2 separate regions of the Homo sapiens genome follow, and region 1 is linked to region 2. Evidence: fine-mapped expression QTL. A gene starts in region 2. The other region holds a variant in brackets. All regions are shown on one strand. Distances are between the middles of the regions.

Evidence for each region. PIP is the estimated chance that this variant, and not a neighbour inherited with it, causes the effect.
Region 1: its variant is the best candidate, but not a certain one, in a credible set for the expression of AFF2 in lung (GTEx, PIP 0.84).

The regions. Positions count from the first base shown.
Region 1 is chrX:148,473,912-148,479,293 of GRCh38, reverse strand. No RefSeq gene overlaps it. Among named protein-coding and RNA genes, the nearest start is that of AFF2, 24 kb to the left of the region's middle. The variant A/G (reference allele first, on the strand shown) is at 2,609.
Region 2 is chrX:148,498,012-148,503,366 of GRCh38, reverse strand. AFF2 (ALF transcription elongation factor 2) reads right to left here and starts at 2,750. Exons shown (of 21, transcript NM_002025.4): 1 at 2,223-2,750. The coding sequence starts at 2,269. RefSeq lists an enhancer at 1,213-2,090.

The DNA.
Region 1 (5,382 bases), 24 kb after region 2:
CTCAATTTTAGTTACGTTATTTCCACTTTATCACAATAGATGATTTTTGTGTGTGTATATGTCACCCTCACTCATACTTTTTGTCTTAGCTGTACTTTTATAGTTTTAATATGTCACCATATGTTCTTTTGCAGAAGTTTCACAGTCATAACTTGATTGGATGAAACTTATCCCCTAGTGTATTCCACAGAACAAGGTGATGAATATCAAATTCTTTAAATTATTGAATGTTGAAAACTGGTTTTCTAGTCTTGAAACTTGAAGGAGAGCCTGATTGTATTAATATGTACAATTATTGGTTTATACTTTATTTCATTGAGCATTTTATTTTCAAAATGCTGCTTCATTGCTGTTCTGCTTGTATGTTGATTATGAAAATTCTGTGCCAGTCCAATTGTTTTGTAAGTTAATCGATCGCTTTGCCTAGAGGCCTAGAAGATTTTACTTTTATTTTTTAAATGTAATCATGTTACCAGGTCATGTTTTAGAGTTGAAAATTCTGTTAATTTCCCTAAGTACTCATGGGTCAACTCAGGCATTTTTCTATTTCTGGGAAGATATTTGTTTCATAGTTTTAAATATTAGTCCTGTTTCAGTGTTTCTGCATTTTTTCTCCAGGGACTCCAATAATAGAAATATTATTCCTTCTTTACCTCTCTTCCATTTCCACTACCTTCCTTTTGACTGTTTTTTACTTATATTTTGTGGTCTTTTAATCTTTTTGCTTTTTTTTCTCTGCCCCTTATTGCATTTTTTTTTCAATGCCCCTTATTACATTTTCATTTCAACCCATTCCTTCTCCCTTGGATCCCTTGTAATTTATTCTTCTTTTATAAGATAATTTTGTATTTTTCTTCCATTTATTTGCAGAGTTTACTCATCTCTCTTACTTCTTCCAGTGTTTAGTTCATTTCTACTTTTAGTGTTTGACTTTCTGACTCAAGGTAGTTTTTTATAGCCTCACAAGCTTGTTTAAATTTATTTAATTCTATTTGGTGTGTTGACTTACTTCTTTATATGATTCATAGGTTTTTTTTCGGGGGGGGGGTTCCTCAGTTCATATATATGATATTTTGTTTCCTAATTTTCTGTCATAGCTTTGTTAACTTCAGTTTTCTTTTGTTCATTTTTATGGTACTGAGTTATTTTTATAAGACTGCAAATTAAATGCCATCTTCTTTTGTCAGTATAGAAAGGACCAGGTACTTTGGCTGTGATGTGGGAGTTGTAAGTGCTTAGATGATGTGGTTCTCTTTTGTCTTGCAGGGCCCTAAATTTCCCCCCTTTGCCTTTGTATTCCTTTTGACTACCCAATTGTCAAATATTTCTTTTCCTTTCCTTCTTACTTTTCTTCTCCCTGCCAAAGCTATGTGTTTTGAAGCCAATTCCTTCATATCATGCCTGCTCTTTTACATCATGCCTGCCTGCTTAAAGAGTGCTTGACTCCTTTAAACCATATGTGCCCCTTTTAATTATGTATAATTTTAAGTTCTCTCCTTATAGTTCATGTTCTCATCTTCCTAGAAACTTTTTATTTTAGTATTTTCGGGATTAAAGTGGACTTACTCTTTCTGGAAGTAGATTTAAAATAAACTTAGCACATTTTCCTAGCTTCCCTCATTTGTCTTCCCTGAGGTTTTTTGTTTGTTTGTTTGCTTACAGTCTGCCTTTGCTGGCCACAGAGCCTTACAGTAGGACAGACATGGGCCAGGACCACGAGAGATGAAACTCTGGGAATAGGTGAATTTTATCTTTTCACTCACAGTTACTTTGAAGTTTGGGCATTCTCTGTCCTTAAGCTATGATAAGGGCATGGTTTTTATATTGATTCATTTCTTCCTTTTTTTGTCATTTTTGTAGGCTACATTAGCAGGCAGGTTGCAGGCTGCTGTACTACAATTACTACTTGATGTCTGTTTATGTTTTTTTTTAGAGATTTAAAGATGCCTTTTATCCCAACATTGTAGATACTAAGTTTACTCCCTTTTATGGAGGGTAGAAAATAACAAAAATATTGCTATAATTCAATAGAGATTAAAAGATAAGAATTTAAATTTAAGGTGAGAGGACTTCCCATTAGCAATGGACAATTCAAAATTTTTGATATGAAAATGATGTCTAATAAAAAAATTCTACTATCAGGCTCCTCCTTCGTATATACTTTATTAATCTTTTGCTTTTGCAATCTAAGTGATGGATGACATGGGCATTTCTAAGGAAAAATGTTATTCACCTTTCTAAAACTGCCAATATTCCCTATGAATACTTCTTATATTCATTAGGAAAGCTTTAGGTTGAAAGTAACTAATACCGGATGATGAGTATAGTTTGAATCTATGAGGATATTCACTGTTAAGTATGAAGTAAGGCAGTCTCATTGTTGAGCAAACAGCTTAACAGTGTCCTCAAGAATTCAGGCTCTTTCCATCTCTTTATTCTGCTACACTCAAAGTTTTGGCCTTTGGGTTTGTGTGTGTGTGTGTGTGTGTGTGTGTGTGTGTGTGTGTGTGTGTGTGTGTGGTGAGGTTTTATCACCTTATGGTCACATGAAGGCTGCTATAGCTTCAGACATTATGTCTTCAATTTAGCAGGAAGAATGAAAAGGAGA[A/G]GACACACGTGCTTTGTTATCAGGAAACCACAATAGTTTCCCCAAGTCTCAAACAAATTCTGGCCAAACCTAGCTATAAGTACCTAGCCTTCCAACATCTGTAGGAAGCAGGGAGAAGAGAGTTGGAAATGGCTGTTGAATTTTCCAGCCAACAATGTGTATGCCAATGGTTCCAAAATAGTTAAGTGGTGCCACTAGCAGTTCTAGGAAAGACATCCAAGAATACTTGTAGTCCAAATGCTTTCTAAATGACAATAATTGTCATTGACACTTTAAGACTACTTACTATAACCAAAATATGGAGTTCAAAGTTTTTCTCATTCTGACCATTCTGTTGTACTTACACCCTCTGGCTTAAGGAAGGGGTACAAAGCCCTACTTGTGTATTTGGAAAGATGGTGTGGGGTACTCAGCGGAAGTGTAGGGAGTATGCAAGCAAGGCACAGCCTACGTAACTATAGTGCTCTGTTGCTTGCTTAGTGCTTAGAGATGGTGACATTGTCTGACTGAGTGATTAAGAGACTGATAATGTCACTGCAACATTGTGTCACTGAAAAAAAAAATGAGTACAGATAATGACCTGGTTCCTTTTTGAGTGCCACCACTTGAGAATACCCACAGTGCCCTCTGCATATTCTAGTCAATCAATTGTAAAGACTGTTGATGGTTTATAGGCTTTCAAAATTAGGGAATTAGGATTAGGGAACAACAAGGCATCGAAATAGAATTTAGAAGCTCAAAGAAATCAAACCACTTTTCATAAATTCCTAATGGAAATACTGGGTATGGAAACTGATTTGGGCATAACCATTAACATATAACACTTACGAATGCTTCCACTATTCTTTCTGATATGATTCATCTCTGTATTTATCTGTTTTGACTTCAGTGTAAACTATACCAGCTGGCATCCTAGTGGAATAGGAACATTATACAGTTATTAAACAACAACAAATTATATATTACACATGACATAAAGATAAACAACCAATAGTTAATTCTTATAGGAGAATAGCAAAACTTTTTCTCAATACTGAGAATGAAGTACAAAGCTCTGGCATTTTATTGTTTGCAAAACTTTGATTTGATTTTATCCTCCCAAGAAAACAGAAGACGTATTATTGTTCTTACTTTGCAGATGAGAATCATAGGCTCAGAGAGGGGAAATGACTTGGCCAAAGTCTCCCTGTTTCTTAGTGAAAGTAGTAGGACTTGACCTTAGGTTTCCTGAGTCTTCATCCATTGCTCTTTCCACCTTTGCAGGCTGTTTCCTGGACCACTTTGTGGTTCAGGTTTCTGAAATAATATATTTCTGACTAGTTTATACCCCTGTTGTGCTAAATAGAACTGAAGTCTCAAATCTGGGTCCACCTGGGACCACTATTTCAGATGAATTAACTGATTTCAAATGTCTTGGTCCACTGTTTCTGTCAATAAATAAGGCATTTGCCATTTTTTGTTGTTTTTGTTGTTGTTGTTGTTGTAGTTGAGATGGAGTCTTGCTCTGTCGCCCAGGCTGGAGTGCAGTGGCGCGATCTCGGCTCACTGCAAGCTCTGCCTCCTGGGTTCACACCATTCTCCTGCCTCAGCCTCCCGAGTAGCTGGGACTATAGGCGCCCACCACCACGCCAGGCTAATTTTTTTGTATTTTTAGTAGAGACAGGGTTTCACTGTGTTAGCCAGGATGGTCTCGATCTCCTGACCTCGTGATGCACCCGCATCGGCCTCCCAAAGTGCTGGGATTACAGGAGTGAGCCATGGCATTTGCCATTCTTATGCTAGTTTCCTTTTTTTTTTCTAGCTGGACATAAGCTAGAGAGTTAACTTGTATCATGATCAAAAGCAAGAGGTGATTTGCCAACAGCAAAATCCTAATGCTATTTATCTATAAAAGGAAGATAAACAGATAATGCAAAAAATAACCCAACCTTGATATTTCAGCCATGTAGCCATGTAAAGTCAAATAAAACCATGATAGAAAAAATAAAAAAGATTTCACTGTTCGATTTTCCTCTTTATTCTCCTTAATAATACAACAAATACTGTACTTTACTTAGAATGATTTTTAAATGAACTACTAAAATGACCCAGTCAAAAAGCAAGAATAAATTTGACCAAAGTTTAAAACCAATGTCAGTTTTCAAATTTCTGCAGGATAAACATGACCTTATTGCATTTTAAATCTGTATAATTTTACAAAATATGATGCTTAGTCTCCAAGAAAAATTCTTTTAAGACTTAATAAGTTACTTGGATAGTATATAGCATATTCTTATCTGTATTTTTCTCAAATACACAGATTCACTATTCTATTTTTAAAAAGTGTTTGAAAAGGGCATTTGAAGTTTTCACAGATAACTGAATAATGGTTTGCAATGTTCACCACGGTAAAAACGTAGTTTGCTTGGTTCGCTATGACTAATTATTCTGAGAGATACAAATATGTGCACTTATGCTGAAAAGCTCTCTTGTCCTGCCCTCTAGCATGCAACTTTTCATGAATTTTATGCAAATCTCTGTATTCAACAGCAATTTTTATTTGAAAAATAGAACAATGAGTAGCATAGAAAAAAATAAGAAAATTAAGGTCAACTTTTCTATACTCTGGTCTTTTATCTTCACGATCTTCACATTTATTTTTACTGTTCCAGCAAGATTGGCTTCTTATTTTCACTGTTTCAGCATCAGCAGGGTATTTTCTGTAACAGCTCCATATGGATGATGTACATGCTTCTTGGCTTATATCTACTCATATGTTCATGATTTAACACCAA
Region 2 (5,355 bases):
TAATGAACACGTAACTGGCATGCTCTGGACTTCCAAAGAGAAGTGGGAAAGGTACCAATTTCCACTCAAGACAATGTCAAGCTTTTTAGTTCATCCACTATTGTCACATTTATGTTCCTTTTCTCTGTGGAGCTATACAAAACACAAAAGCACAACCACATTACAAATGTTTATAAACAGAGATGCATCACGAAGTGTGCCACTCACGAGCAGTAAGAAGGAGAAATTTTCCTGGATCATGTACAGAGGGAAAGGACAGGCTTATTTATGCAGATGCGTTACACTAATTAATCAGTATTTCACATAATATTCACGAAGTGTCCAAGTCTATGCTTCTTAACTGATGTGTCTCAGTTAGGGATCTGGAGGAAAAAAAGGTTTTGCATTTTCCTTAAGATAAGAAAAAGAAAGCCTCCCACAGGGGTGAGGGAGCCTATCATTTTTTTTAAAGAAATCAAACATAAAAGAGTCCATTCCCTTTAAATATGCAATTGCATATGCATAAGATTAAACCGGAATTAATATAAAAAACATGTTTCTAAAAACCTAATACCTTGTATATGTTTAACATTTGAACTATACCCATGAAATTAATTATAACAATGTCTGTTAAATTAACGATGTAACCCACACCACATATTAGGCAAATTGTATGCAAATAGAGTGCTATGGTTATCAGTTGTCTGCAAAATAAATTAGTGAAGCAGAGTAAAGGCTGTGTGCAGAAGCATAATATCTAATTGAGCAATAATTTTATAGTAATTTTTACTTTCAAATAACAGCATTTTTTAATGTAACAATGTATTTCTACAGAGCTGATAAAACCGTGGTATCCAAAACGCCTTATAGATTAATACTGATACAGCATAATTTGCGCTTCAAGGATTTATCCGGAATTGCTGTAAAATAAAATGTATTTAAGTTCTGACTATCTTGGATTTGCAACTAAAGGAGGCATGATTGGCATAATGAAGCTGTTGGCTAAGCATATGACCCTTTTTTAAAGAAGGAAATTGCCTAAAATATCACATCAACAGGGGAAATCCTTGTAAAAATACACAGCATTCATAACCAACGGCCGCTAGTAGTTTAACATTGCAAAAGATTTCGCACTATTGGTAGGTACTACAGATCATTCTAAATACATTTTAAAAGGCAATAACCAAGAATGCAATTTTAAGCGGTTACCACTGCGCCCCCTCCCCATCTAATTCCTTAGACTGCGGGGGGAATCTGATACGTTTAAGTATTATGACAAATAAACTGTGATAATGTTTGTAGTAGGTGAAGTTTTTGAAAAGTTAATAGATATGTATATCAGTATTTATGCACACGCGCACGCACATCTCTAAGAGAGTTAACAACTTTCCAGGTCCCCAGTCACCTTTCTACCATCTTTCAAAATGTCTCAGCGACAAGTTTAGGGTATTTTGTGAAGAGCTGACTCAACCTTTGAATCTGAGCTGGAGGTCCCTTACAAAAAACTACGGCTGCCTCCCAGTGGGAGGCCGAAGGGGGTCCATCCGGTAATTAAATGTGCATTGACATCAGAGCTGCGGATTTGGGGGGCCAACTCCGAAAACCCTCAGTCTTGAAAGCCAAGCGCCGAAGTCGGCCTCGAACCAAGGTCCCCTGAGTGGTGGCCCCCAAAGCCGCTGCTCCACCCGGGAGTGCAGGGAACTTGGGCTGAGTCGGCAGAAGGAAAGGTGTGCGCGCCGCGCAGCGCAGGGATGGAGGTGGCGGCAGCGGGGGCGGTGGCCACCAAGGAAGCAGAGGGCTGCTGGCCGCACCTGGCCGTTGCCTTTCCCCCATGGCCCGCCGCGGGCGTTGGGCACCTGGAAAGTTGAGACATTTCGGGCGGGCGGCATCCGGGGCTCAAGGAGGCCAGACCGGCAAGCCGCTCCGAGAGAAAAGCTCCTGGGAGGTCGTGCGGTTCAGCCCTCGGGCGGCACCGAATTCGATGTGAGCCAAATGCAACTCTTTAGACTTGGAGCGCAAAGCGACGCTTTCGGGTCCGCATCCCTCCCTCTTCCCGCACCTCCCCCCACCCCGGCATCCGACCTAGGAGTCAGCGCGGCCGGGGCCAGAGGTGGCTGAGAGCAAGTGGGAGGGAGTCCGGGGCGCCCCCCACGACAGCTTCAGCTCCTCTTAACAAAGGCGAAAACCTCAGACTTCGCCAGGAGACTCGCTCATCAAAGGAGAAGGCAAAAATCAACACCTACCACTGCTGCTCCAAGTCCCAGTCTCTGAAAAAGTCGAATAGATCCATAGCGGCCAGGCGGCGGCGGCGGGCGGGCGCCTGTCCCTGATCGCAGCGGGTCGGCGCGGCTCTCGGCACAGCTCGCTGGCGGTTCTCGGCGGCCCCCGGCTCTCCAGCCCTCCCGCCCAGCTAAAAGTGTCCGGGCCGCATCGGCAGCAGCAGCGGGCGCTGGAGGTGTCTGGTCCTGTGCTCCGGCGAGGAAGCGGCGGCAGTGGCACTGGGCGGGCAAGCGCCTGGTCGCCCACTCGGGTCCGCTCGGTCCGCGGTAGCCCGCGCACCCAGCGACCCGACGCTGCGGCGGCAGCCGCTGCGGGCTCAGGCGGGCTGGGCCGCCCGCCTGGCTGGCTGCGGGCCGGCGGCGGCAGCGGCGGCGGGGGCGGCCGGGGCAGAGGCAGCGGCGCGGCGCGGCAGCCGGGGCGGCAGCGGCGGCGGCGGCGGCGGCGGCGGCGGCGGCGGCGGCGGCGGCGGCAGCGGCTGCACAGGCGGCGGCGGCGGCCGCGGCAGCATCACACACTTACACACTCACAGGGGGCGGAGCCTGGACAGCTAGAAGCCGCGACATGGAGCAGGCACGTTATCATCCCCGGATCTGGCAGGGGCTCGCCGCGCCCGCCCCTGCCTTTCGGGAACCCTCTCCCACCCCCCACTGTCAAAATCAGCTAGTGGGAGCGGCCACAGAGCTGAGGACCCGGACCCGGACCCGGGACGCAGGGGCCGTGGCAGGGATACAGGAGGTGGGCTGGCGGGACCAGGACGCGGGCTTCGGGAATGGGACCCCTCTCTGAAGCCCAGCCCACCCCCACCACTGGGAATTAGTTTTGAACTAGAAAAGACAGCACAAACAGCCGTGGGGTTGAAGGTCGCCCCCTGCCACCTCAAGCACAGCTCCTTGAGCCCCCGAGTAGTGGAGCAAACTTTGCGGGCCTGAGCATCCCTCAGGTCTGTAGTGCGTAGCACGCGGGTCCAGGAAGGAGAAGGCGGTCACCTTCACCAGCCCCGTGGCTCCACGTGCCCGCACCCAGGCCCTCCAGGCATGCCTTTAGGCGCGCACCTAGTAGGTCAGCGAGCTATAGGCCCTGGATTCAGTGGGCAGCAAGGATAGGAACAAATGACTGCCCTTGCGTGGTCCTTGAGTTCGGGGTTAGGATACTGTTAAACTGGGTTCCACTGTCACTTTCCTCGCACGGTCACCAGGTGCCTTGAGCAAAAGACTTCTGCTAGCTCCTCCTCTGAGAAATGGGAAAACCACTGGGTGTGTGCCCAGTATCCCACGCACCGGCTGCCCGTCTCCCTTCTGGCCTGAAATTCTCTTTCTGCACGTGGAGGGTTTAACCGAGCCTCCTACTCCCTTCAACCTCCACCTCTGATCCAGGAAGGAGTGGATCCCTTTAGCCAATTCCCTGGAGGGAAAGGTTCCCTGGCCTCCGTGCAGAGAAAGGTCTGTGGGAAGGGGCGGGACCGCTTTCTGGCATTTCAGGACATGAGCATTCTGGAGTCCTAGGCATGTAATTTGCCTTCTTCGTGTCGTTATACAGAGGGAATAGTATTGGCACATTTTTCAAATCCTAAGGCTAGAACTCTCTTGGGAAGGACAGCAGACTGAGCCCTGACAGAGCAGGGTGCCGGTAGCTCTGTGTGTGACTCCAAGCAAGTCACTTATCTGGGCCTCAGTTTCTCCATAAAACACCCAGCAGCCCTCTGGCTCATACTTCTCTGACATTCTCCCTTCTATTTGAATATGCTTCTACAGTATTATCTCATATTACCAAAATCATCCAAATACCTTTTAACTTCATTTTTTTCCTGAAGAAACAGAGACCCTAAGACATTAAAATGCTCAAGATCTGATATTTCCCCTAGAGGGGGATCCCAGATTAGAACCTAGAACCTGGGAAGCTCTTCCAGGGCTGGAGCCAGTAGAAGGTGCCTCAGCTCCAAGCATGAATGACTTCAGCATTTGAGCTACAAGGGGCCCAGGGTCTGGTCTCTTTCACATTGTTTTACGGGGGGAAAGAAAGCACATCATTAACATAGAGAAACAAGGCTCTAAGATTCTGCAACTCAAGCATCCACTGGGACTTTGCTTAGATGTCTATTTACTTTGCATGGGACCAAGTCCTCAACAGATGCTGGTTGACTGATGGAAAATCAACCAGTGGGCAGCCAAGGGGAGACGACATCTCAAAGTGGCTTGTAGATTTGGCTACCTGTAAACTCCTCTGGTCAAAAAGACTCTATGGAGAAACAGTTATTGGCAAAAATGGTGCTGGGGATTTTCAAATTATCTCTGTGACTTATTTATTCATGGAATTCTAGTATTCAGCCCTGGACTGAGAGCCCTTAAAGCAACAAGGACGGCCTCGCTCAGATCTGTGGCCCCCGACCTTTATGCCTTCAGTAAAAAATCCTCAAATTGGATTTGATTGCTGATGATGGTTGCCAGCATTAGTACTTGATCTGCTTGAAAATCCTTAGAGGAAAGCCAGAACACCTACAATTAACATTTAAATGGTGATTATGGTCACTTTATTTCTGGTTTACTTTTCTCACAAAATTGTATTTAATGGGGAAAGATAGAAAAAAAAATAACATGCTAGGCAAACAAATTTTCAACAGAAATAAAGCTGCCCCTTTAAGAGTTCCAGCCCCCCATCACCTCACTGGTGCACTTTCTTCCCAATCAGCAGGAGGACCAAGCAGAAGCAGAAGGAGCCAGCAAGAGGCAGCACTATGAACAGAAGTGCCTGCGGGAAGGAGAGAAGAGACAAGTGGTGCCGGCTGCTGCTTCAAAAGAGGGGCAGGGGCTTTCCCTTCCTGAGATCAAAACCAAGCAGGAAGGTTGGGTTGGGTGGAAGGAGCCCCCACTTCCTAGCCACTCTCCTCAAACAGAGATGAGGTTAAGACAGGCAACACTGAAGGGGCCAGGCTGTCCCTGAGGCCTCTTTGGCCGGGCCTGGCACCTGCTCACTGAGCATCAGCTACTGAGCAAGATAGAAGCTTTGTCTTCTCTGATCCAAGGTGTGCTTTCTCCCTTCCTCCTCACTCTGTGCATCCGTGGCTCTGATGGGGCCAGGGGCCCTAGAACTCAGCTCTTC